3 separate regions of the Homo sapiens genome follow, and all the other regions are linked to region 1. Evidence: fine-mapped expression QTL. A gene starts in region 1. Each other region holds a variant in brackets. All regions are shown on one strand. Distances are between the middles of the regions.

Evidence for each region.
Region 2: its variant is fine-mapped to the expression of HSD17B4 in whole blood (TOPMed, PIP 0.98).
Region 3: its variant is fine-mapped to the expression of HSD17B4 in lung (TOPMed, PIP above 0.99).

What each region holds. Positions count from the first base shown.
Region 1 is chr5:119,448,144-119,456,328 of GRCh38, reverse strand. It overlaps HSD17B4 (hydroxysteroid 17-beta dehydrogenase 4), which reads right to left and starts at 3,832. Exons shown (of 24, transcript NM_000414.4): 1 at 3,696-3,832; 2 at 1-14. The coding sequence starts at 3,753. RefSeq lists an enhancer at 3,682-3,731.
Region 2 is chr5:119,415,482-119,423,666 of GRCh38, reverse strand. No RefSeq gene overlaps it. Among named protein-coding and RNA genes, the nearest start is that of HSD17B4, 33 kb to the left of the region's middle. The variant A/T (reference allele first, on the strand shown) is at 4,607.
Region 3 is chr5:119,550,007-119,558,191 of GRCh38, reverse strand. It overlaps the pseudogene FABP5P6. Among named protein-coding and RNA genes, the nearest start is that of FAM170A, 75 kb to the left of the region's middle. The variant G/A (reference allele first, on the strand shown) is at 4,432.

The sequences.
Region 1 (8,185 bases):
GGCTCGGCCCAATCCTAATCAAAAACAAAATAATCAGAAAGTTGAAGAAATGTCAGCATAATTTTTTTGGTCCGCTCAACTCAATCCCCATTTAAAGAAATTGGTGAACAATTAATTACATTTTAATGATACTCTCAACCTATCCTATCACTGACATTCTCAACCTATCCACTCTCTTCTGCTTGCAGAGGCTGGAAAGCTTAAAACTGTATTTTTCCACCTATTCTACTACCACTTCCTACCATTCTACTTAGCTGCTAGGATGCTGTGAATTGGGTTCCACCATCTGATGCATCTGCATAAAACTTAGAAGGTGTAAGTGAGACAGAGACCACCTTACTGGGAGTTCTGGCTGTTGTTGTTAAGAAGCTAGTTTTCTTGAAAGTTCCTAGGTATTCAGAAACTGACTATAGCAGCGACTTCTTCATTCAGCTCCCTAATCCCTGGATGGCAGCTTCCATACTTCAGGTCCCTAGTGCCAGTGCTACTTGGGCTGTGGCACAGCTCCAATGACAGCCTCAGAGGTATTGCCTCCTCTAATGGATCAATTTCCTATTGTTTCAGGAGTTATTCTAAGAAGACCTGCCTAAAACCTAATTGCCTGTATTGAATCCTTTGCTGCTTAAAATATCTAGTGGTTTCTGTATCCCACAGTGAACCCTGACTACACAGTCATCAAATACAGAAAATATTTAATTCTGACTCAAAGCTACAAGGTGTAAATTTATATATCCAAAAAGAAATTATATATATATATATAGAGAGAGAGAGAGAGAGAGAGAGAGAAAGTTTTGCTTTTTTTCTTTTTTTTTGAGATCCAGTCTCACTCTGTCGCCCAGGCTGGAGTGCAGTGGCATGATCTCGGCTCACTGCAACCTCCACCTCCCAGGTTCAGGTGATTGTCCTGCCTCAGCCTCGCGAGTAGCTGGGACTACAGGCGCCCGCCACCACGCCCAGCTAATTTTTGTATTTTTAGTAGAGATGGGGTTTCACCATGTTGGCCAGGATGGTCTCGATCTCTTGACCTCGTGATCAGCCCACCTCGGCCTCCCAAAGTGCTGGGATTACAGGCGTGAGCCACCACCATCCCCAGCCAAGAGAGAAGTTTTATAGGCATAGAGTATCTCGGGAAAAACACATTAGAAACTGGCAATTAGTGGTTACCTCTGGAGGACAGAACTATGTGGCTAGCAATAAGGGGTGGAAGGCTTACTTCTGGATTGTTTTTCTGTATTGTTTACATTTTTTAATATGTGTATATTTTTTACATTTTAAGTTAATTGATAAATTTCATTGACAAATGAATAAATTTAATTAACAATTTATATTTAGTATAAATTAATCAATAAGTATACAAATAACAAACTGAGATACATAAATTATTAGCCCCTTCCAAAAACAACCCAAGGCCAGGAGTAGTGACACACATCTGTAATCCCAACACTTTATGAGACAGAGGTGGGCGGATCATTTGAGGTCTGGAGTTCAAGACCAGCCTGGCCAACAGGGTGAAACCCCGTCTCTATTCAAACCACAAAAATCAGCTGGGCTTGGTGGTGTGCACCTGTACCCCCAGCTACTTGGGAGGCTGAGGTAGGAGAATTGTTTGAACCCGGAAGGCAGAGGTTGCAGTCAGCCAAGATCATGTCACTGCACTCCAGCCTCGGCAACAGAGCAAAACTCCCTCTCAAACAAAAACAAAAAGAACCAAAAATATACAGTTTTCCAAAACTAGGAAATTTCACCAAATAACTTATTTTAGAATTTAATCCAAGCAGAAGGATCACTTGAGGCCAGGAGTTTGAGACCAGCCTGGGCAACAAAGCGAGACTCCATCTCTTGAAAACATTTAAAAATTAGCTGGGCGTGGTGGCACATGCCTACAGTCCTAGCTAGTCTGGAAGCTGATGCAAAAGGATCACTTGAGCCCAGGAGTTCAAGGTTACAGTGAGCCATGATCGGGTCACTGCACTCCAGCCTGGGTACAGAGTAAAACCTTTAGCTCTGAAAAAAAAAAAAAATTTAATCAACTCTGAATGGGTAAGAGAGAATTTAACCAGTTTATGAACAGCAGGTGCTAAGTTCATAACTGTCTAGTCACAACTCATTGTTTCACAAAATCAATTTTGTGGGTTACAATTACAATTTATAAATAAAACAGAATAGAAAATAAATTTCAGGATGCATTGCCTGTACTACACACTATATCATGAACTGGTTTTAAATACAGATGTATGTGCTTGTGTAAGTGTACTGAGTACTGGTGTAAAATGTACTGCATACCATGTGTAAGTATGCTAATGGTGTCAAAAGAAGCAGTCCCTATCCTTGAATGATTTTCAGATATAGCCCCTGAAAAGGAAAGTCTCCTTAGCGATGGCAAAAACGTCTTAGAATGTAATCCCTGGACCTCCTGCATGAAAATTATCCAAGAGCTGTCAAAAAAGATTTAAAACACCAAGCGTTGTAAAATACATTATTTACAATAAAAGCAAAGTGTAAACAAAATGTTTTCCTAAAAACATTTAGAAGGTATGACTACACCCAAATACATGCCCATGCAGAGATAACCAGACAGCTATGGGTATAAAATACTTGGCTATTCATCAACACTGAAAGCATTTTCTGAAAGGCAGCATAAGAAGCCACTTTATCAATACAGATATGAAAGTACATAGGAATTAATTGACAGAATTCCAGTTTGTAACGTTTAATATATAACTCAAATAATTCATGCATTAGGGCCTTTCCAGGTATAAGGTACTACCAGTGGAGAATCAAAGGTGCATAATGTCAAGATCCCTGCACTTGGAGGTTACAGAGGTCACCCACTGGTGAGAAACTAATGTAAAATCTCACTGCACAGCATCTATGTTGGTATGAATGGTTTGTTTTAATTTTTTGTACTTTAAAAAATGGGGCTATTTCACATAACAATTTTCCATTTTGCCGCTCCTGAAATACAGGCAACTTTCCCACTGGCCGGTCCACTTCGGAATTCTCTGCTCTCCAGTTCCTCAGATGTGCCCATCCTACTCCCATTTTCTTTCTCCATCATACGCCTGACCCCTGTGCGCATTTGAGCTTACAACCTCTGCCAAGACTCCAGTGGATTTCGAGAACAGATTGTGACTTGCTAAGCATACAAACTCCAACGGGGAAGGGCTCTTATCAGACGCCCTCTTTAAAGAAGGTCCTCTCACGAACTTAAAATCTTACGACAGAGGGAAACAAACACTGAACGACCGAATGACTTTTCAGGAGCTGACATCTCTGCGCTTCAGGGGGCGAATTCCAGCCCCCGCCCCTCGCGGCTTTTCAGTCCTTTAAAAGACTAGGCAAAGATCTAAGAGAGTTAATTGCAGGAAGAGTAACAATCGATGCCCACAGATAAGGGTCAGGGAGAACTTTCACCCAGTTTTGCAATCAGCAGCCCAGCCTGGCCTCTCCTCTCAGGCAGGACCTTGGGAAGCCCACACCGGGGTGCTGGGGAGAAGCGGGCTGTACCTGCTTGAGAGACCAGGTGTTTCCGGCTCTTTCCTCCTCAAGAGATGCGGTGCCTCAAGAATAACCATTCCCCTCCCCACCACCTCAGCGGGGTGACCTCAGCTGCGGCTGCGCGCGTATGCCGGCCCGAAAAGAGCAGCCAGCTGCGCCTCAGCAAGGGGCGCGGCCTCCAACCTTCGCATGCTCACCTGCCCCCGCGCCGGTGACCAGTACCACCCGCCCGTCGAACCTCAGCGGTGAGCCCATGAATAAGGCCTGCAACGACACACACACGAACAAGCAGAGCCGCTGGACGCCGACTGCGGGACAGGAGGAGGCGGGGAATGGCGGGGGCGGGACGAGGGTCAGTGACTTGCCGATTTCTGGTAGGAAGATGAGCGCAGAGCGCGCGGCTCCCTTGGAATCCTGGGAAATGTAGTTAAGAGTGACTCCACTCGCTGGAAGACTTGCCTTCCAGGGGCCATTTCTGCGGCTGGAAGCAATGGGAGCTGCTAGGACTTGTGTAGAAGAATAGTTAACTCGACACCTTGCGTTCATCTATTCACCTGTCGTTTCATCATTCACTCAATAAACGTTTTCTGGGTTTAGTTGCTGACCTAGAGAAACAGCATGCGGCCCCTATCCTTGAGGGGCTTCCAGAGATAGCCCCTGGGAAGGAAAGTCCCCCTTAGGGATGGTAAAGATTTGTCAGTGTAATAATCCCTGCACTTCTACATGCAAACATCAGGGGACTGTCAAAATGCAGAGTCCTGGACCCCCACTGCTTACCTCCCAAAATAGAATCTCAAGGGGCAAAAACATTTTGACAAGTGTTCCTAAATGATCTTGCGTTTGTATGTTGAGAACAGTCATAGTTCAATCAACATTTACTGAGCATCTCCTGAGTTTTGATAGGATCCTCAAGCTACTCAGAGTCAGATGGTAAACTTTCAATAACGGTGCAGCCTAGACTTGTGACCAATGTGTGTAAGTGAGCTAATGGTGTCAAAATAAACAGACCCTATCCCCGCTGGGGAGAAAGAGGAAAAACTTTCTGAAGGAGGACCAGGACCTAAAGTGGCGACCCCTGCAAAGAAAGAAGGGCATTACAGGCAGCACAAACACTAGCTAGGTTTGGGGAGAAAGAGGGTAAAGCCACAAAAGCAAAGCCAGCAAGATCATGTTTAGATGTTTGAATTTTGTGCTGAAAACGGTTTTAAGTAGGATTACTCCAGAGAGTGGTGGGAACACATTTACACTATGGAAAGATCACTTTGCCCATTATGGAGGATTGATTGGATGTTGCGGGAAGTCATGGACCCCAAACAGAGGGACCTGCTAGAGCCGCAGCAGAGGAACATAAATTGTGAAGATTTCACGGACATTTATCAGTTCCCAAATAATACTTTTATAATTTCTTATGCCTGTCTTTACTTTAATCTCTTAATCCTGTTATCTTCGTAAGCTGAAGGTGTACGTCACCTCAGGACCACTGTGATAATTGTGTTAACTGTACAAATTGATTGTAAAACATGTGTGTTTGAACAATATGAAATCAGTGCACCTTGAAAAAGAACAGAATAACAGCAATTTTTAGGGAACAAGGGAAGTCAACCATATGGGCTGACTGCCTGCGGGGTTGGGCAAAAACAGCCATATTTTTCTTCTTGCAGAGAGCCTATAAACGGACGTGCAAGTAGGGAAGATATCACTAAATTCTTTTCCTAGCAAGGAATATTAATATTAATACCCTGGTAAAGGAATGCATTCCTGGGGGGAGGTCTATAAACGGCTGCTCTGTCTTATGTGGTTGAGATAAGGACTGAGATATGCCCTGGTCTCCTGCAGTACCCTCAGGCTTACTACGGTGGGGAAAAACCCGGCCCTGGTAAATTTGTGGTCAGACCAGTTGTCTGCTCTCGAACCCTGTTTCTGTTGTTTAAGATGTTTATCAAGATAATACATGCACTGCTGAACATAGACCCTTATCAGTAGCTCTGCTTTTGCCCTTTGTCTTGTGATCTTTGTTGGACCCTTATTAGTAGTTCTGCTTTTGCCCTTTGTCCTGTTCCCTCAGAAGCATATGATCTTTGTTCTGCTTTTTGCCCTTTGAAGCATGTGATGTTTGTACCTACTCTCTGTTCTTACACCCCCTTCCCTTTTGCAACCCTTAATAAAAAACTTGCTGGTTTGAGGCTCAGGTGGGCATCACGGTCCTACTGATATGTGATGTCACCCCCGGCAGCCCAGCTGTAAAATTCCTCCCTTTGTACTCTTTCTCTATTTCTCAGCTGACTGACACTTATGGAAAATAGAAAGAACCTATGTTGAAATATTGGGGGCAGGTTCCCCCAATAATTAGAGGTGGGCAAGGAGAACATAGAAAAGATTTGGGGGAAATTATGGAAACCAGAAGTAAGGCAGAGGAAATGTTGAAGAAGAAATGTTGAGATAAACTGTATTTGCAAATGGAACTGACAGGGATAGAAGGCAGGGAAATTCTGGGCAGAAGAGGGCAGGTCCCCAGTGAGGGCTCCAACCTCAAGCCTGAAAACACAGCCCAAAGTGAGAACATGCATCCCTGTTTTCCCTCTTGAATGTTGCCTTTTCCAAAACCACCTATGGTCCCCCTGCCCCCCATCCTGTGCCCATAAAAACCCCAGGCTCCAATGGCAGAGAGGAGAGGAGAGAAGAAACAGCTCGACTTCAGAGGTATGGCTTAATGGCGTTGCTCCTGGGGAAGATCACCTTCTCACTCCATCCCCTTTTCAGCTCCCCTTCCCATTGACAGCCACTCTCATCGGCAATAAAATCCTCTGCATTCACCATTATTCAATTTGTTCCTGTGACCTGATTTTTCCTGGATGCCAAACAAGAGCTCAGGTGCCACAGGTGTGACACTAAAGGCTGTCACACTGACCCTCTGCCCTCACTGGCAGAGAGCAAGTGCCTCACACCAAAAAACAGAGGGCCTACTGAGCTGTTTAACATTTAAGCCATCAGTGGATGGCAAAGTTAAAAGAGCACTGTAACACACACCCTCTGGGGCTTCAGGGGCCTTAGGTACCCCTCTAGACACTGCCAAGGGCCACATAGAGTTTTGCTCCTGCATGCACTGGCCCCAGCTCCTGCACCCACTCACCTGTGCTCCCCGTTCCTGTGGAACGCAGTGGGACCCAGTGAATGGAGTCCACCCCTGCCAGACCCAAAGCGGCCAGCTAGTTCTAGATCCTATGTGCTCCAGTTCCTGCCCCCACCCATGAAGGGGTCAGGAAAATTTCCTGCTTCAGAACTAGTCTTTTTGATTAATTAGATGTAGATATGAGAAAAGAGCAACTGAAATAATCCTATATTTTGATTTGAAAATCTAGATTACGATGGGCCATTCATCAAAATAAATAGTGGAGAAAGAGTGGCTTTGGAGGGGTTATGGCTTCAATTTTAGACAAACTGCATCTGTGAAGGGGAAGCAAAACTATGGCTAGAGACACCTAGCAGACAGCTATGGTTCCAGAGCTCTGACAGCTTGGTTTCTGTTATAAATAAAGTTTTGGTGCCACAGAAGAAATAGCACTCGAATATAAAATTTTTTTTTCTTCTCAGCAACGCAGTTTACTTCTATAGAAGGTTGCACTCTCACAGATGGAGCAATGGTGAGCGCACACCCGGACAAGGGAGGGGAAGGGGTCCTTATTCCTGATGCATGTGGCCCCTGCTGCTGTGTCATTCCCCTATTGCCTAGGGTTAGTCCACACAGGTTAAACTAATTCCAGTTGGCTAATTTAAAGAGAGTGACAGGGTGAGTGGTTTGGCAGGAAAAATGGTTATGACAGAGAGGACATCGGAATGAGCCAGGGTAGAGAATGAGCAGGTAATCAGAATGAGACAGGGTGGAGCAGGTAATCGGAAAAGGTTGCTTTACGAGGAAGTTAAGTTTCAAAGTAGAAGGCAAAGAATTGAATACACTGACATACTGATTCTTTTAAAAGAAATTTAGAACTCATATCTAACAACTCCTCCTCTTGCATTTCCTTACAGCTCTTTCTCTTCAAACTTCTTTAACATGTCTTGGCTTAGTTGTTCTGCTTGATTTTCCAAAAGAATAAGCTTCTCTGGATAAGGTGGAGGATAGTTAAGGGAGGATTTAGTAAGTGCCATTTCTATGAGCCTCTGCACCAACCCACAGATGTATGGTATGATACAGCACCCAACAAGAGTAAGTACACCCATTACGGCTGCAAGGGAAGTTAAGAATTGAGGCTATTATTCCTTTCCATTTACCAAACCACTTTTCTAGGCATCCTGTAAAGGGCCCATTTACCCTTAGTTGCTGGCTAACTCACTGGACAGAGCAGTCAGACCTTGCAATGCCTTTGTTATACTTCCATTAGGGGCGGTATTGTTTGGGATGAAGGTACAACACTGAGTTTTAATCATGATGCAAACTCCTCCTCTTTCTGCTAATATCATGTCTCAGGCTATCCTATTTTCCCAAGCCATCTGGCTAGTAGCCCCTAATTGCTCAGCTATTCTTTTAACAGCATCTCTAGGGTAGTTAATAAATCGCTGTTGGTTGCAATAAATGTAGTTTATCAAACCTACATTTTTATTAATTGTAACTTACCAAAATACTGGCTGAAATCCTGCAGCTATTTGATTTTGGGCTTTAAATTGATCTGGTATTCCCAGTGGGACTCCA
Region 2 (8,185 bases), 33 kb after region 1:
AAAGTATGCTTTAGCATTTTTAAACCACAGTATCTGAGTTTAATAAGAAAATGGATCCATCTGGGGATCAACATAGGCTTTCCAGGAACTCATATTGCATAAGTCAGGATCAAGTCTTGAATGGAGATAGAAATTCCTTTCCTGGGGTCACAAGAAGCTTTCTAAGGGGCTCTATACTGCAACGGCAGCTGGATTTTGCATGAACTGTAGAACCATTGCTAGAGCCAGGAACAGAGCTTAGACTTGCTCTTTTTCTCAAGCTCAGCTTACTAGGTGGAAATCTCATAGATTTTTTTTTCTGATTTTTTTCTCCTTTATCTTATTCCTTAGCCTTGGACAGATGATCCAGGTTGAACCTGCTGTAGCAAGAAAATGTTAGCAAGAAGGAAATTTTTAAGCATCCTTTGGAGTAGCAAAGTCAGTGTTACTAATCGATGCCTAGCAAATGTCATTGCACCCTAACTGGGCCTCTGAAACCTTGTTATGTTGGTAACAAAAGGTACAACACAGTGGGCCGGGCGCGGTGGCTCACACCTGTAATGCCAACACACTGGGAGGCCGAGGTGGGATCACGAGGTCAGGAGATCGAGACCATCCTGGCTAACACAGTGAAACCCCGTCTCTACTTAAAAAGTCCAAAAAATTAGCTGGGCATGGTGGCAGGCACCTGCGGTCCCAGCTACTCGGGAGGCTAAGGTAGAAGAATGGGGTGAACCCAGGAGGTGGAGCTTGCAGTGAGCCAAGATCATGCCACTGCATTCCAGCCTGGGTGACAGAGCAAGACTCTGTCAAAAAAAAGAAAAAAAGAGTACATAGAAACACAACTAGTCTTATTACACAAGATATTTCCCAATTGAGTTTAGGCTCACAGACCCTGGCCAACTGGCACAGTATGACTGGTAACCTGGCAAGCAACCTGACAAGCTCAAACAAGCTTTTCTGTTTTCTCCATTCTGCAAATTATCCTAAATCGCTTGGCTGGCAACTGCAATAAAGATCTAAATTGTGCTGGGATCTGGGAAATATCATTTTTGCTTGTGATAACTGCTGCTCATGTTTCCTAAGTATTGTGGGTGTGTAGCTGCTGCTACACTGGTCTTATGCATCCTGTGCTCTTTGGAAAAGTAAGACAAGTGAGAGAATTGCAGTTGAGTTCATCCCACTTTGGAGGTGCAAGAGGAGCTAGCATTCATTCTAGTATAACAGCACAAGATACGGTGATAGCATCCAGTGGTGACTAGTGTATAAAAGTGATGCTTTCACTGCATATTCTCACTCATAAGTAGAAGCTGAACAATGAGAAAACATGGACACAGAGAGGGAAACATCATACACTGGAGCCTGTTGGGGCATGGGGGGCAAGGGGAGGGAGAGCATTAGGACAAATACCTAATGCATGTGGGGCTTAAAACCTAGAGGACGGGTTGACAGGTGCAGCAAAACACCATGGCACACATATACTTGTGTAACAAACCTGCACATCCTGCACATATATCCCAGAACTTAAAGTAAAATAAAATAAAATAAATAAACATTTCCACATTTTTATAAAGTGGTGTTTTTAATAAAAGCAGTACCATGTTTTCCATTTTAAACTTATCTCTTGGGCACACAGATCCCTATGCAGGAGGTAAGATTTCATCATGCATACATTCAGCCTTTATTTATTAAGGGCTTGTATTAGTCTGTCCTCATGCTGCTAATAAAGACATACCCAAGACTGGGTAATTACAAAGGAAAGAGGTTTAATTGACTCATGATTCCACATGTCTGGGAAGGCCTTACAATCATGGTGGAAAGCAAATGAGGAGCAAAGCCACATCTTATATGTCGGCAGGCAAGAGAGAGCTTGTGCAAGGGAACTCCCATTTATAAAACCATCAGATTTTGTGAGACTTATTCACTACCACGAGAACAGTATGGGGAAAACCACCCCCATGATTCAATTATCTCCCACCAGGTCCCTCCCATGACACATGGGAGTTATGGAAGCTAGAGTTCAACATGAGATTTGAGTGGGGACACAGCCAAACCATATCATTTCACCCGTGGCCCCTTCCAAATCTCATGTCCTTACATTTCAAAACCAATCACACCAGCCAGGTGTGGTGGCTCACACCTGTAATCCCTGCTCTTTAGGAGACTGAGGTAGGTGGATCGCCTGAGGATAGGAGTTTTAGACCAGCCTGGCCAAGACGGTGAAACCCTGCCTCTATTAAAAATACAAAAATTAGCCAGGAATGGTGGTGCATGACCGTAGTCCCAGCTACTCAGGAGGCTGAGGCAGGAGAATTGCTTGAACCTGGGAGGAGGAGATTGCAGTGAGCTGAGATAGTGTCACTGCACTCTAATCTGGGTGAAAGAGTGAGACTCCATCTTAAAAAAACAAAAAACAATCATGCCTTCCCAACAGTCCCCCAAAGTCTTAACTCATTTCAGCATTAACTCAAAAGTCCACAGTCCAAAATCTCATCTGAGACAAGCAAGTCCCTTTTGCCTGTGAGCCTGTAAAATCAAAAGCAAGTTAGTTACTTCCCAGATACAATTGGGGTACTGGAATTGGGAAAATACACCTGTTCCAAATTGGAGAAATTGGCTAAAACAAAGGAGCCACAGAACCCATGCAAGTCCAAAATCCAGAGGGGCAGTCAAATCTGAAAGCTCCAAAATGATCTCCTTTGACTCCATGTCTCACATCCAGGTCATGGTGATGCAAGAGGTGGGTTCCTATGGTCTTGGGCAGCTCTGCCCCAGCTTTGCAGGGTACAGCCCCACTCCTGGCTGCTTTCACGGGCTGGCATTGAGTGTCTGTGGCTTTTTCAGGCACACAGTGCAAAGTGTCAGTGGACTTACCATTCTGAGGTCTGGAAGACGGTGGCCTCTTCTCACAGCTCCACTAGGCAGTGCCCCAGTGGGGGCTCTGTGTGGGGCCTCAACCCCACATTTTCTCTTCTGTACTGCTCTAGCAGAGGTTCTCCATGAGGTCCCCACCCCTGCAGCAAACATCTGTCTGGACATTCAGAGTTTCCATACATCTTCTGAAATCTAGGCAGACATTCCTAAACCTTAATTCTTGACTTCTGTGCACCCTCAGGCTCAATACCATGTGTAAGCTGCCAAGGCTTGGGGCTTACACCTTCTGAAGCCATGGCCTAAGCTATACTTTGGCCCCTTTTAGCCATGGCTAGAGCGACTGTGTGGTAGGGTATGAAGTCCCTAGACTGCCTACAGCAGAGGGACCCGGGGCCCAGTCCACAAAACCAGTTTTTCCTCCTAGGCTGCCAGGCCTGTGGTGAGAGACGCTGCTGTGAAGACCTCTGACATGCCCTGGAGACATTTTCCTCTTTCTCTTGGTGATTAACATTTGGTTCCTCATTTCTTACACAAATTCTGCAGCCAGCTTGAATTTCTTCTCAGAAAATGGGTTTTTCTTTTCTATCTCATTGTCAGGCTGCAAATTTTCCAAACTTATATGCTCTGCTTCCCTTTTAAACATAAGTTCCAATTTCAGATCATCTCTCTTAGGTTCAAAGTTCCACAGATTTCTAGGGCAGAAGCGAAATGCCACCAGTCTCTTTGCTAAAGCATAACAAGAGTGACCTTTGCTGTAGTTCCCAACAAGTTTCTCATCTTCATCTGAGACCACCTCAGCCTGGATTTCATTGTTTATATCATTATCATCATTTTGGTCAAAACCATTCAACAAGTCTCCAGGAAGTTCCAAACTTTCCTACATTTTTCTGTCTTCCTCTGAGCCCTCCAAACTGTTTCAACCTCTGCCTGTTACCCAGTTCCAAAGCCGCTTCCGCATCTTCGTGTGTCTTTACAGCAGTGCCCCACTCTACTGGTACCAATTTACTCTGTTAGTCTGTTCTCATGCTGCTAATAAAGACATACCCCAGACTGGGTAATTATAAAGGAAAGAGGTTTAATTGACTCACAGTTCCACGTGGCTGGAGAGGCCTCACAATCATGGCAGAAGGTGAATGAAAAGCAAAATCACATCTTACAAATCGGCAGGCAAGAGAGAGTTTGTTCATGGGAAATCCCACTTATAAAACCATCAGATCTCGTGAGACTTATTCACTACCAGGAGAACAGTATGGGGGAAACTGCTCCTGTGATTCAATTATCTCCCACCAAGTCCCTTCCACGACATGTGGAAATTATGGGAGCTACAATTCAAGATGAGATTTGTGTGGGGACACAGTCAAACCATATCAGGGCTGCTATGGGTCAGGCACTGTTCTTGGTGCTGCAAACAAAATAGACAAGGTCCCTGCATTTATAGATCTTATATTCTAGAGAGAAAAGAGTTGATAAACTACAAATAAATAATTCCAGATAACTGTAAGTGCTAAGGGAAGATATTTATTAATTTAACAGATGTCATTATTTTCTAGGCACTTTCTTAGTATTTTACAAATATTAACTTATCTGATTTCATAACGACCTAAAAAGTAGATTTTATAATTATCCTCATTTTCAGATGAGAAACCCTTCCACAAAAAGGTTAAATAACTGCTAGCATAGAGTGAAGTGAGAATTCAAACCCCAGTGATTTTTGCCTAAAACTGGATAATTCTATTCAAAAGAGACTGGAAGC[A/T]GAGACAGGGAGGGGAGGTACAAATCTACAGAAGGTATCCTGGAAAGGCTTACAGGGAGGTGAATTTTGAGCTGAGACCTGAATGTCAACAAGGAACCAGTCAAGCAAGCATTAGGACAGACCCTTCTGGGCAGAATGAAAAGCACATGCAAAAGCTCTGTGGGGAAAACACCTTGACTTCCTGGTACATGAGGAGGTCAAAGAAGTGGGCAAGGACCAGATTGTGTGGAGCCTTGTAGGCAATAGTTACAAGTATGGATTTTCTTCTAATTATAATAGAAATCCCTTGAAAAGCCAGGGAGTAAAATAATCTGATATGTAAAACCACAAATTTCATTACATATACTTATAAGAATGTATGTGCCTAGAGAAAAGCCCAGGGAGGGGCATACCAACTGATAACGGTGGTTAGTTCTGGAGATATGTTCGGGATCATGACAGTGATGAAAGAGACTTTCACTTTATCTTTTTTTGTTCACATGAAAATGTACTTGTGTAATTATACAAATGAATAATTTTAAAAAAACAATTTAAGCTCCTTAAAATACCATGTATTGCATAGCGTAAAACCTACTCAATTACAAGCAGATGCACCATGCTAAAGAAAACACAATATTGGGCAGCTTGTGTAGCCTGAGTTGTATGATGTGTATCTCCCTTAGAGAAACCACAAGCAGCCATGTGTATTGCATAATAAGCTAATCAGCTTAGGAAGCAGAGAATTTGGGAGTACTGAGGAGAAGCATGCTAAATAAAGCTGCATGCTGAGGCTGAGAAAATGCAATTTAGGAATAAGAACTTAGCTGGTTTCTCTAACTGGAAAGCCGTGGATGATCTGTGCGTTGTATAAACTATGAAAACCACTTTCAGTGTAAAGTTGAGCTACTGCCAGCATTTGTCTCTCTTTACAGAATGTACCCAGTGAAATGTTAATTAGGAGTAAAACTGGCTTACCTCATTCACCTATTCCTTTGACACTTAAGCCACTTGGGATTTACCACCCACTTTCACATTTTGTTACGTTCAGTCTTCCAACTTCCTGTTCACAACCCCTCTTTTATCACTTAGTTTATTTCCTGCTGTCTTGCGCTCCACCTCAACTGCTTTTATTCTGCTTGGGGACTTCAGAATCAATGTGCATTGGACCCACTGAATTGGACCCATCCAATACTTTGTATCCTAGTTAATGCTCTCATTTCCAGTGACTTTTTAAATTTAACAACTGCTAGCACTCTCGCCCATACTCACAACCCTGAATGTGTTCATTACCAAGAACCTTACCACTTCTGAAATCTCATGTCCGAATGTCCTGCCTTTCTAGCACAAGTGCTCCCACTGCAGAAGTCTCCAGCACCATGACCTCCAGTGCATCCTTGGCGCTCCTAATACCCAGACCCTTTTCTGTCTTACTTTCTTGTCTTGCTTAGACTCTATGACCCACCATTACAATCTACAGCCTTGCTTCTCTTTTCCTTCTATCATGCTTTCCTAGAAAACTTTGCAGTTTTCCAGTTTAAAATGTTTTCTAACTTCTAACATTTCTTTCTTGATGCATGAGTTATTTACAAGTTATCTTCTTAAAATCAAACAAGGAAATTTCCTAGTCATCTTTTTGTCAATGATTTTGAGCTTAATGCATTATTATCAAAAAACATTCCCTGATTTCAAGCCTTTTAAATATAGGGAAGCCGGCTTTATGATCCACCATACTGTCAATTTTAACAGGGATTCCATGTATACTTGAAAAGAATGGGTATTTGCAGTTTGGGGCTCAGGGTTCCATATGTGGTCATTAGGTCAAGTTTGTAGATCATATTGTTCAAGTCTTCTGTATCTTTATGGATATTTTATCTGCTTGCACTATCAGTTACTGACAGAAATATGTTTAAAATACCCCACTATGATTCAGGGTTTTTCTAAATCTCTTGTTATTCTTTCCATTTTTTTGCTTTATACGTATTTGAAGGTTTGCTATTGTCCTGTGATCCATTCTATACTATAGAAGACCAGACCCCAGGAAACTATCTACAACTTCCCGAGGATCATGAGGACCTTAGCAGGTTTACTTTTTTAAATTCTAGAGAAATTGTCTGTTTAGTGTCTCGCTGGAATACAATCACTATGGCCAAGGAGTGTCTTGGCAAGCCAATGCTGAGTCATAAGCTAATTCTTTTTTTTTTTTTTTTTTTTTTTTGAGACGGAATCTCACTCTGTCGCCCAGGCTGGAGTGCAGTGGTGCAATCTCAGCTCACTGCAAGCTCCGCTTCTCAGGTTCACATCATTCTCCTGCCTCAGCCTCCCGAGTAGCTGGAACTACAGGCACCCACCACCACACCTGGCTAATTTTTTGTATTTTTAGTAGAGACAGGGTTTCACTGTGTTAGCCAGGATGGTCTTGATCTCCTGACCTCATGATCCACCCGCCTCAGCCTCCCAAAGTTCTGGGAATACAGGCGTGAGCCACCCCATCTGGCCGTCATAAGCTAATTCTTTAGGGCAAGATCTAAGACTGTCAGCTCCTACAAAAACGTGGAGAAATTCCTCAAAAAAAAAGTGGACTACTGTTTTGCACAGACAATACATTTGCACTGCAACTAGCTTTTTACAATTGTAAATAGACAGCATGACAACTCTTTGGAGTTAGCATTAGCAACTCAGATTCAAAGCAGTAGCCCATCCACTGTAGACCGTGGGAGGGGCCTAAGTATTTAACATAGATGAGCAAAGAATATAGAATCAGAAAATGCAAGAAAATTTCTGGAAAGAGTGATACAAGTTACTTTTACTTAAAAGTCACACCTCAGTTTGAATTTCAACACCTTCCCTATCTATATAAACGTGTATAAATTATTGACCTACTCTAATCCCCTTCTGAAAGATATAATTTAAGTGCCTAGTAAATACTAACTGCTCAATAAAGGTTAATTTCCTACATAAGGAGGGAGAGTTTACTCTAGAACACCACAGTGATTATAACTTATATTCATAGATGATTGGATATATTTATGCTTAATTATGCATAGAGTTCATAGTATAAACTATCGGTTTAGTCTTTCTCATCTAAATCTCAGTTTTAAAGAATCTCTTCAACATTTGGATATGAGAGGTGGCTTCACAGGTATATTAGTTATTATGCTGTTTAACAAATCACTCCAAAACCTAGACACTTACATCACAAACACTCCTTTATTATCTCTGTTTATGTGGGTTGGAAATTTGGGCATAGCTTAGCCAGATACCTAAAGCTTGCAGTCTCTCAAAATGTGTCTCACAAGGCAATCAAGGTGTCCACTTCAACTGCAATCATTTCAAGACTCATCTGGGGGAGGACCCACTCTGAGTTCACTTCTGTGGCAATAGGCAGACCCCGGGTCTTTTCTGGCTGTTGGCTGGAGACATCAGTTCCTTGCCACCTGGACCACTCCATAAGGCCACTCACAGCCTGCAACTGGCAACTCAAGGTGAGAAAATGAGAGAGCAAGAGAAGACTCCCCCCAAAAGAAGCCACCATCTTAAAAAAAAAGACTTTATGTTTTAGAGCAGTTTTAGGTTCATAGCAAAATTGAGCAGAAAGTACAG
Region 3 (8,185 bases), 100 kb before region 1:
AATAATACAATGAAAAAAACAAAGTATCTAGGTAACAAGTAACATGATGAATAGAATAGCACCTCACATCTCAATATTAACATTGAATGTAAATTTATAGGCCCTATAACATTTATGCTTTCAGGAGGTTCTATTTTGGTGTATCTCAAACTTTTGTTTCAAGATTTAGAACTTCTTTTAGCATTTCTTGTAGTGCGGGTTTGACATCATTTGTTTGTCTGAAAAAGACTTTATCTCTGCTCATTTATGAAGCTTAGTTTTGCTGGATACAAAATTCTTGATGAAAATTATTTTGTTTAATGAGGCTAAAGATAAGACCCTAATCCCTTCTGGCTTATAAGGTTTCTGCTGAGGAATCTGTTGTTACTCTGACAGGTTTTCCAGTATAGATTATCTGATGCTTTTGTCTCACAATTATTAAAATTTTTTCCTTTGTCCTAACTTTAAATAAACTGATGACTATGTGCCATGGTGATATTTTTCCAATGAATTTCCTAGGTGTTCTTCGAGCTTTTTGTATTTACATGTCCAGATCTCTAGCAAGGTCAGGGAAGTTTTCCTCAATTATTCCCTCAAATAAGTTTTCCAAACTTTTAGACTTCTCTTCTCCCTCAGAAATACCAATTATTCTGAGAATGGCGTGAACCCGGGAGGCAGAGCTTTCAGTGAGCCGAGATCACACCACTGCACTCCAGCCTGGGCGACAGAGCGAGACTCCATCTCAAAAAAAAAAAAAACAAATACCAATTATTCTTAGGTTTGGCCATTTTACATAATCCCATATTTCTTGGAGACTTTGTTCAGTTTTTAAAATTCTTTTTTCTTTGTCTGATTGGGTTAATTCAAATGCCTTGTCTTCAAGCTCTGACTTTCCTTTTTCTTCTTGTTCTAGTCTATTTTTGAAACTTTCTACTGCATTTTATATATTCCTAAGAGTGTCTTTCATTTCCAGAAGTTCTGATTGTTTTTATGATATCTAGTTCTCTGGAAACATTTTCATTCATATCCTGGACTTTTTAAATTTATTTATGTTGGTTTTCACCTTTTTCTGGTACCTCGTTGAGTAGCTTAATAATCAACCTTCTGAAGTCTTTATCTGGCATTTCAGAGATTTGTTCTTGATTTGGATCCATTGCTGGAGAGCTAGTGTGATATTTTGGGGGGTGTTATAGAACTCTGTTTTGTCATATTAGCCAGATTTACTTTTCTGCTTCCTTCTCACTTGGGTAGACTATTTCTTCAAATTGTTCTTGAATTTATTTTTAATTGGACTGTGTTTTTTTAAGCATATGACTTTAATGCTTATAGTTTATTTTAGCCTAATTTGATTCTTGGTGCTTTTAAGAGTGAACACTCTATATGAATTCCTTAGTTACAGAGAGTCTTGTGCACTGGCTTTCCCAGATGCTGGTTGTAGTAGTTATATACTTGGTGCATGGGCAAGTTCACTGTCTCCTATAGGGTTGGAATGGCAGGGATCTCTTGAAGCTTATCTCATTCTCTCAAGGTATACAGTTTATTTATTTATTTACTTTTTCCCCAGTATTTTATTTACTGAGTTGATGATTCAGGCTTTAGACCAATTAGGGGAGGTGTCCTTGGGTAAGCACTGGTAGTAGCTAAGGCAGATGTGTAGATGTAATACCCAATGGTTGGCAGAGGTCCCAGGCTTGATGAAGGTGGCCGGGGGAGCTCTCAGTGAGATGTGCTGAGGTTTTATCAGGGTGAAGGGTGGGAGCTACCTCAGCTCCTCTGTCAGGCCCCTGTTGACCATTATTAAAGTGATAGATAATGAAGTAAAAATAATCAAATTATTATGATACAGAGGGTTTCTACCTATATGATACAGAGGGACAAAGATTCCAAATGAAACATGAATAAAGGAAATGTAAGAAATAAAATCAAAGCAAAAAGTTAAATTAATGAATATAGTTTAGATGAAGAAAATGAAACCTTACAGATACACCGAAATCATCTTTGATAACTTCTGCACGCTCATTCAACAGAAGCAACCACTCTCATGAAGCAGGTGTGGATCCTCTCCAGTCCATGCTTTATCCCTTTATTACATGTAAATATAGCCATAGAAAGTATAATGTTTTTAAATTTTTACATGAATTGCATCATTCTACACATTTCTGGAGTGATTTTTTTTATTTTGGCCAACAATTGTGTTTTAGTTGGTTATATATTTAGGACCACAAACATGTCTACTATGAAACTGGAATATTTGCCTTCTAATTAAACAAGAAATAACTATATAATAACTAACAGGATCAAAGTGTCCACACAGAACAGTAGCAGATGCAGGTGACTGCTGGACCTCTTCCCAGCCTCTAGCTCCCTAAGGTGGGCACCATATCCAGGGACAGAGTCCACACAGGAAGGATCCTGAAGCATCTGAGGACACAGCCACACTCTTGTCATGCCATTGCCCTTCTATTCTTTCCTTATAACATCATGTAAGAGGGCACAGCATGTTTCCCATGCTGGACCCTGCTCTGCTCACTCCACACACCTTCTGACACCCACCATGGACACTGTTCAGCAACTGGAAGAAAGAGGGCACCTGATGGACAGCAAAGGCTTTGATGAATAATAAATACATGAAGGAACTAGGAGTGGGACTAGCCCTCTGCGAAAAAAAGGGTGCTATGGCCAAAAAAGATTGTATTAGCTTTTTTGATGGCAAAAACCTCACCATAAAAATGGAGAGTACTTTAAAATCATACAGTTTTCTCACACTCAGGGGAGGGAAATTCAAAGAAACTACAGGTGACGGCAGAAAAACTCAGACTGCACCTTTACATATGGCACATTGGTTCGACATCAGAAGTGGAATGGAAAGGAAGGCAAAATAAGAAAATTGAAAGACAGGAAATTAGTGGTGGACTGCATCATAAACAATGTCACCTGTACTCAGATCTATGAAAAAGTAGAATAAAAACTCCATCATCACTTTGGACAAGAATTAGTTATCAGAATGAACAAGCTCAGTTCAATGGACAAATCCCCTTACTACTGCTTTTTTTGTCATTACTGTATTCAATTACCTTTATCAAAAACATTTTACATGCAACTATTTCAAAGTGTTGGTTTAATTAGAACCCTCTCCAGTCCATGCTTTATCCCTTTATTACATGTAAATATAGCCATAGAAATATGGCTTTGATTAATAAATAATTGTGTTTGTATAAAAGAAAGAGAGAAAAAGAAAAAAAGAGAAAGAAAGAAAAAAGAAAAGAAAGAGAAATCATGTAATAGAATGTTAGAATATTAACAAATATATCAGTTAGAACACAACCTCATGTGTCAGTACCCTAGGGTCCCTGAACACCATCCCTGACTCAGGCTTTCCAGCATGCTTGTATCACTCAGTGCAATCCCTGACTCTGATTTTAGTACATGTCTATTTATATATCTGTTTCCTTTCCCTTTCCCACTTGTACTCACGAGTGCCACGAGGACAATGTTAAATAGTAGTGGTGACAGTGGACTTATCTTCCTGTCTATAATGAAATGTCCTTTGTATTTTACCATTAAAGGACAAGGGAGAGATAGAACAATCACTCAACTTAGGTTAAAGAAGTATCCCTTTATACCTATCACATTAAATGTCTTTATCAGCAACAAAAAAAGAAAACTTCAGGCCACTATCCCTGATGAACATTGATGCAAAAAATACTGACAAATCGAATCTGGCAGCACATCCAGAAGCTTATCCACCACGATCAAGTTGGTTTCATCCCTGGGATGCAAGGTTTGTTCAACAGGCAAATCAATAAACGTAATTCATCACATAAACAGAACTAAAGACAAAAACCACAAGATTATCTCAATAGACACAGAAAAGGCCTAATTCAACATCTCTTCATGTTAAAAACTCTCAATAAACTAAGTATTGATGGAACGTATCTCAAAATAATGAGAGACATTTATGACAAACCCACAGCCAATATCATACTGAATAGGCAATAACTGGACGCATTCCCTTTGAAAACCAACACAAGACAAGAATGCCCTCTCTCACCACTCCTATTCAACATAGTATTGGAAGTTCTGGCCAGGGCAATCAGGCAAGAGAAAGAAATAAAGGGTATTCAGGATGGGCACGGTAGTTCATGTCTGTAATCTCAGCAGTTTGGGAGGCCATGGTGGGCAGATCACGTGAGCCCAGGAGTTCAAGACCAGCCTGAGCAACATGGCAAAACCGTGTCTCTCCCAAAAATGCAAAAATTAGCTGGGCGTGGTGGCACATGCCTGTAGTCCCAGCTACTCAGGAGGCTGAGGCAGGAGGATCACTTGAACCCAGGAGGCAGAGGTTGCAGTGAGCCAATATCATGCCACTGGACTCCAGCCTGGATGACAGAGTGAGACACTAAGAAAGAAAGAGAGTAAGAGAGAGAGAGAAAAGAAAGAAAGAGAGAGAGA[G/A]AGAAAGAAAAAGAAAGAAAGAAAGAGAAAAAAGGAAGGAAGGAAGGAAGGAAAGAAGGAAGGAAGGAGTCGAATAGGAAGAGAGAAAGTCAAACTCTCTCTTTTGCGGATGACATGATCATATATCAGAAAATCCCATTGTCTCGGCCCAAAAGCTCCTTAGGCTGATAAGCAACTTCAGCGAAGTCTCAGGATACAAAATCAACATGCAAAAATCACAAGCATTCCTATACACCAACAAAAGACAAGCAGAGAGCCAAATCATGACTTAACTCTCATTCACAATTGTTACAAAGAGAATAAAATACCTAGGAATACAGCTAACAAGGGATATGAAGGAACTCTTCACGAAGAATTACAAAGCACTGCTTTGTAATAAGCACTGCTTTGTAATAAGTATTTGCTTTGAAATAAGAGGGGACACAAACAAATTGAAAAACATCCTATGCCCATGGATACAAAGAATGAATATTGTGAAAATGGTCATACCGAACAAAGTAATTTATAGATTTAATGCTACTCCCATTCAACTACCATTGACATTCATCACAGGATTAGGAAAAACTACTTTAAAATTCATATAGAACCAGAAAAGAGCCCGTATAGCCAAGACAACCCTAAGCAAAGAGATGCTGGAGGCATCATGTTACCTGATTTCAAACTACACTACAAGGCAAACATGAACCTGATCACAACAGCATGGTACTGGTACCAAAACAGATACATAGACCAATGGAAGAGAATAGAGACCTCAGTAATAAGACCACACATCTATAACCATTTGATCTTCGACAAACCTGAGAAAAACAAGCAATGGGGAAAAGATTCCCTATTTAACAAACGGTGCTGGGGGTGCTGGCTAGCCATATGTAGAAAATGGAAACTGGACCCCTTTCTTACACCTTATATAAAAATCAACTCAAGATGGATTAAAGACTTAAATATCAAAACCCAAACTATAAAAACCCTAAAGAAAATCTAGGCAATACCATTCAGAACAGAGGCACAGGCAAGGATTTCATGATGAAAACACCAAAAGCAATTGCAACAAAAGTAAAAATTGATGAATGGAATCCAATTAAACTAATGAGCTTCTGCACAGCAAAAGAAACTATCATCAGAGTGAACAGACAACCTACAGAATGGGAGAAAATTTTTGCAATCGCTCCATTTGACAAAGGTCTAATATCCAGAATCTATAAGGAACTTAAGCAAATTTACAAGAAAAAAACAACTCCATCAAAAAGTGGGCAAAGGATATGAATAGATACTTTTCAAAAGAAGACATACATGGGGCCAACAAACATGCAAAAAAGCTCAGCATCACTGATCATTAGAGAAATGCAAATCAAAACCACAATGAGATACCATCTCACAACAGTTAGAATTGTGATTATTAAAAAGTCAAGAAACAACAGATGCTGGGGAGGCTGTGGAGAAATAGGAAGGCTTTTACACTGTTGGTGGGAGCGTAAATTAGTTCAACCATAGGGGAAGACAGTGTGGTGATTTCTTAAAGACCTAAAACCATAAACACCATTTGACCCAGCAATGCCATTACTGGGTATATACCCCAAGGAATATAAATCATTCTATTATCTGTGCACATTTATGTTCATTGCGGCGCTATTCACAATAGCAAAGACATGAAATCAACCAAAATGCCCATCAATTATAGACTGGATAAAGAAAATATGGCATATATACACAATGGAATACTATGCAGCCATAAAAAGGAATGAGATCATGTCCTTCGCAAGGACATGGATGGAGTTGAAAGCCATTATCCTCAGCAAATAACACAGGAAGAGAAAACCAAACACCGCATGTTCTCACCTGTAAGTGGGAGCTGAACAATGAGAACATATGAACACAGGGAGGGGAACAACACAAACTGAGGCTTGTCAGGGGAGGCAGGTAGAGGGAGAGCATCAGGAAAAATAGCTAATGCATGCTGGGCTTCATACCTAGGTGATGGGTTGATAGGTGCAGCAAACCACCATGGCACATGTTTACCTATGTAACGAACCTGCACGTCCTGCATATGTATTCCAGAACTTAAAATAAAATTAAATTAAAAGCAAATGATGCTGAATTTTAAGTGCTTTTTCCAAATCTATGGAGATAATATAAATTTTTCTCCTTGTCCCCAGTAGCTCACCATGATCAAATAGCGGTTAGTACTCTGCATCGCAATCTATTAATGTGATTAATCCTATTAATGGAGTTTCTAATATTGAACCATAAGGGGTACGCTTTTAATGTGCTATTAGACACTTTTTTTAAAGGCCATTAGTCCATACTTTCTTTTGATTCTGTCACCTTTGAAGTTTTAGTATTGTTATTATATCAACTTAATGGACAAACATGGCAGCTCTCATTCCGTGCCCTCCAGAACAACAGAAGTAAGATTGGCATTTTCTGTTCATTAAGGGTTTGGCTGAATTCACATGTGAATCTGAGGCTTAGGAACTCAGGGAGAATAGTCGTTTCTCAAACTTTCTCAAATTCTATTTTTCTTCTTCTTGAGACAGGGTCTCACTCTATCATGGGTTGGGGTGCAACGGCATGATTACAACTCACTGCAGCCTCCACCTCCTGGGCTCAATTGATCCACCTGCCTCAGCTTCCCCAGTAGCTAGGACTACAGGCATGTGCCAGGCTGGCAATTTTTTTCATTTTTTGGAGAAAAGAGTTTCACTATGTTGCCTAGGCTGGTCTTGAATTCCTGGATTCAAATGATCCTCCCACCTCAGCCTCCCAAAGTGCTGGGATTACAGGTGCGAGCCACAATGGCCAGCCTCAAATTCTTTTATGTCAAGCCATCTGTTTAGATTTTCTATTTTGTGTCAATGATGTAAAAAAATCATTAAATTTATACAGCATTTGAAGTTCATTGGCATACAGTTAAGCAAAATACTCTCCTTTTTAAAAATTAATTAGGTAAGATTGTGAGTTAGCTATTTATTACACTTTGTAAAGATCAGCCTGTTGATTTGTTTGTTCATTTAATTATTTATTTACGCTAGATTTTTTATTTTCAACTCTCTTCTTTTTCTGCTTTTATTATAAATAATTCCTTTGCTCCGCTTTCTTTGGGTTTGTTGTTTTTCTAACTTACTAAGTTGAATGCTTAATTCATTTATTTATATTCCTATAATTAGTATAAGAATTTTAAACTATGAAATTTTCCTTTGATTACTGCTTTAACTGTATCCTGCAGTGTTATACCATTTCCATATATTCCCGTATGCAGACATAATTTTATAAAATAAATGTAATAATATGCAAGCTTTGTTAATATACCTTTTTCCTTCTCCTTTTGCTTGGTCTCCCTTTCTCCCTCCACTCCTCTCCCCTCCACTATAATCACCATACCCTAACTGCCACGGTAATCTTTGCTAACGACATAATGTGTTGGGATACATTTTTCCTATAGTGAAAAATCTTTCTCCGTCATTCTGCTTTAGGTGTGTATTATTTTATAGCATATAGTTGAATTTTCTTTTTTTATGTCACTATTGTATTTTCCCAATATTTAAATTGCAAAAATGTTTGAAAATACAGTAAACCTGAAAGAATTTTACACTAAGCACCTCTATAACCACCTCCTGAATAATTAACGTTGTACTATTGTTACCAGTGGAGGGTGTCCAGGTACTTGGCGTTTTGAACAAAGAATTGGACAAAATGCACAAAGCAAGGAAAAAATGAAGCAACAAAAGCAGAGATTTATTGAAAACAAAAGTACACT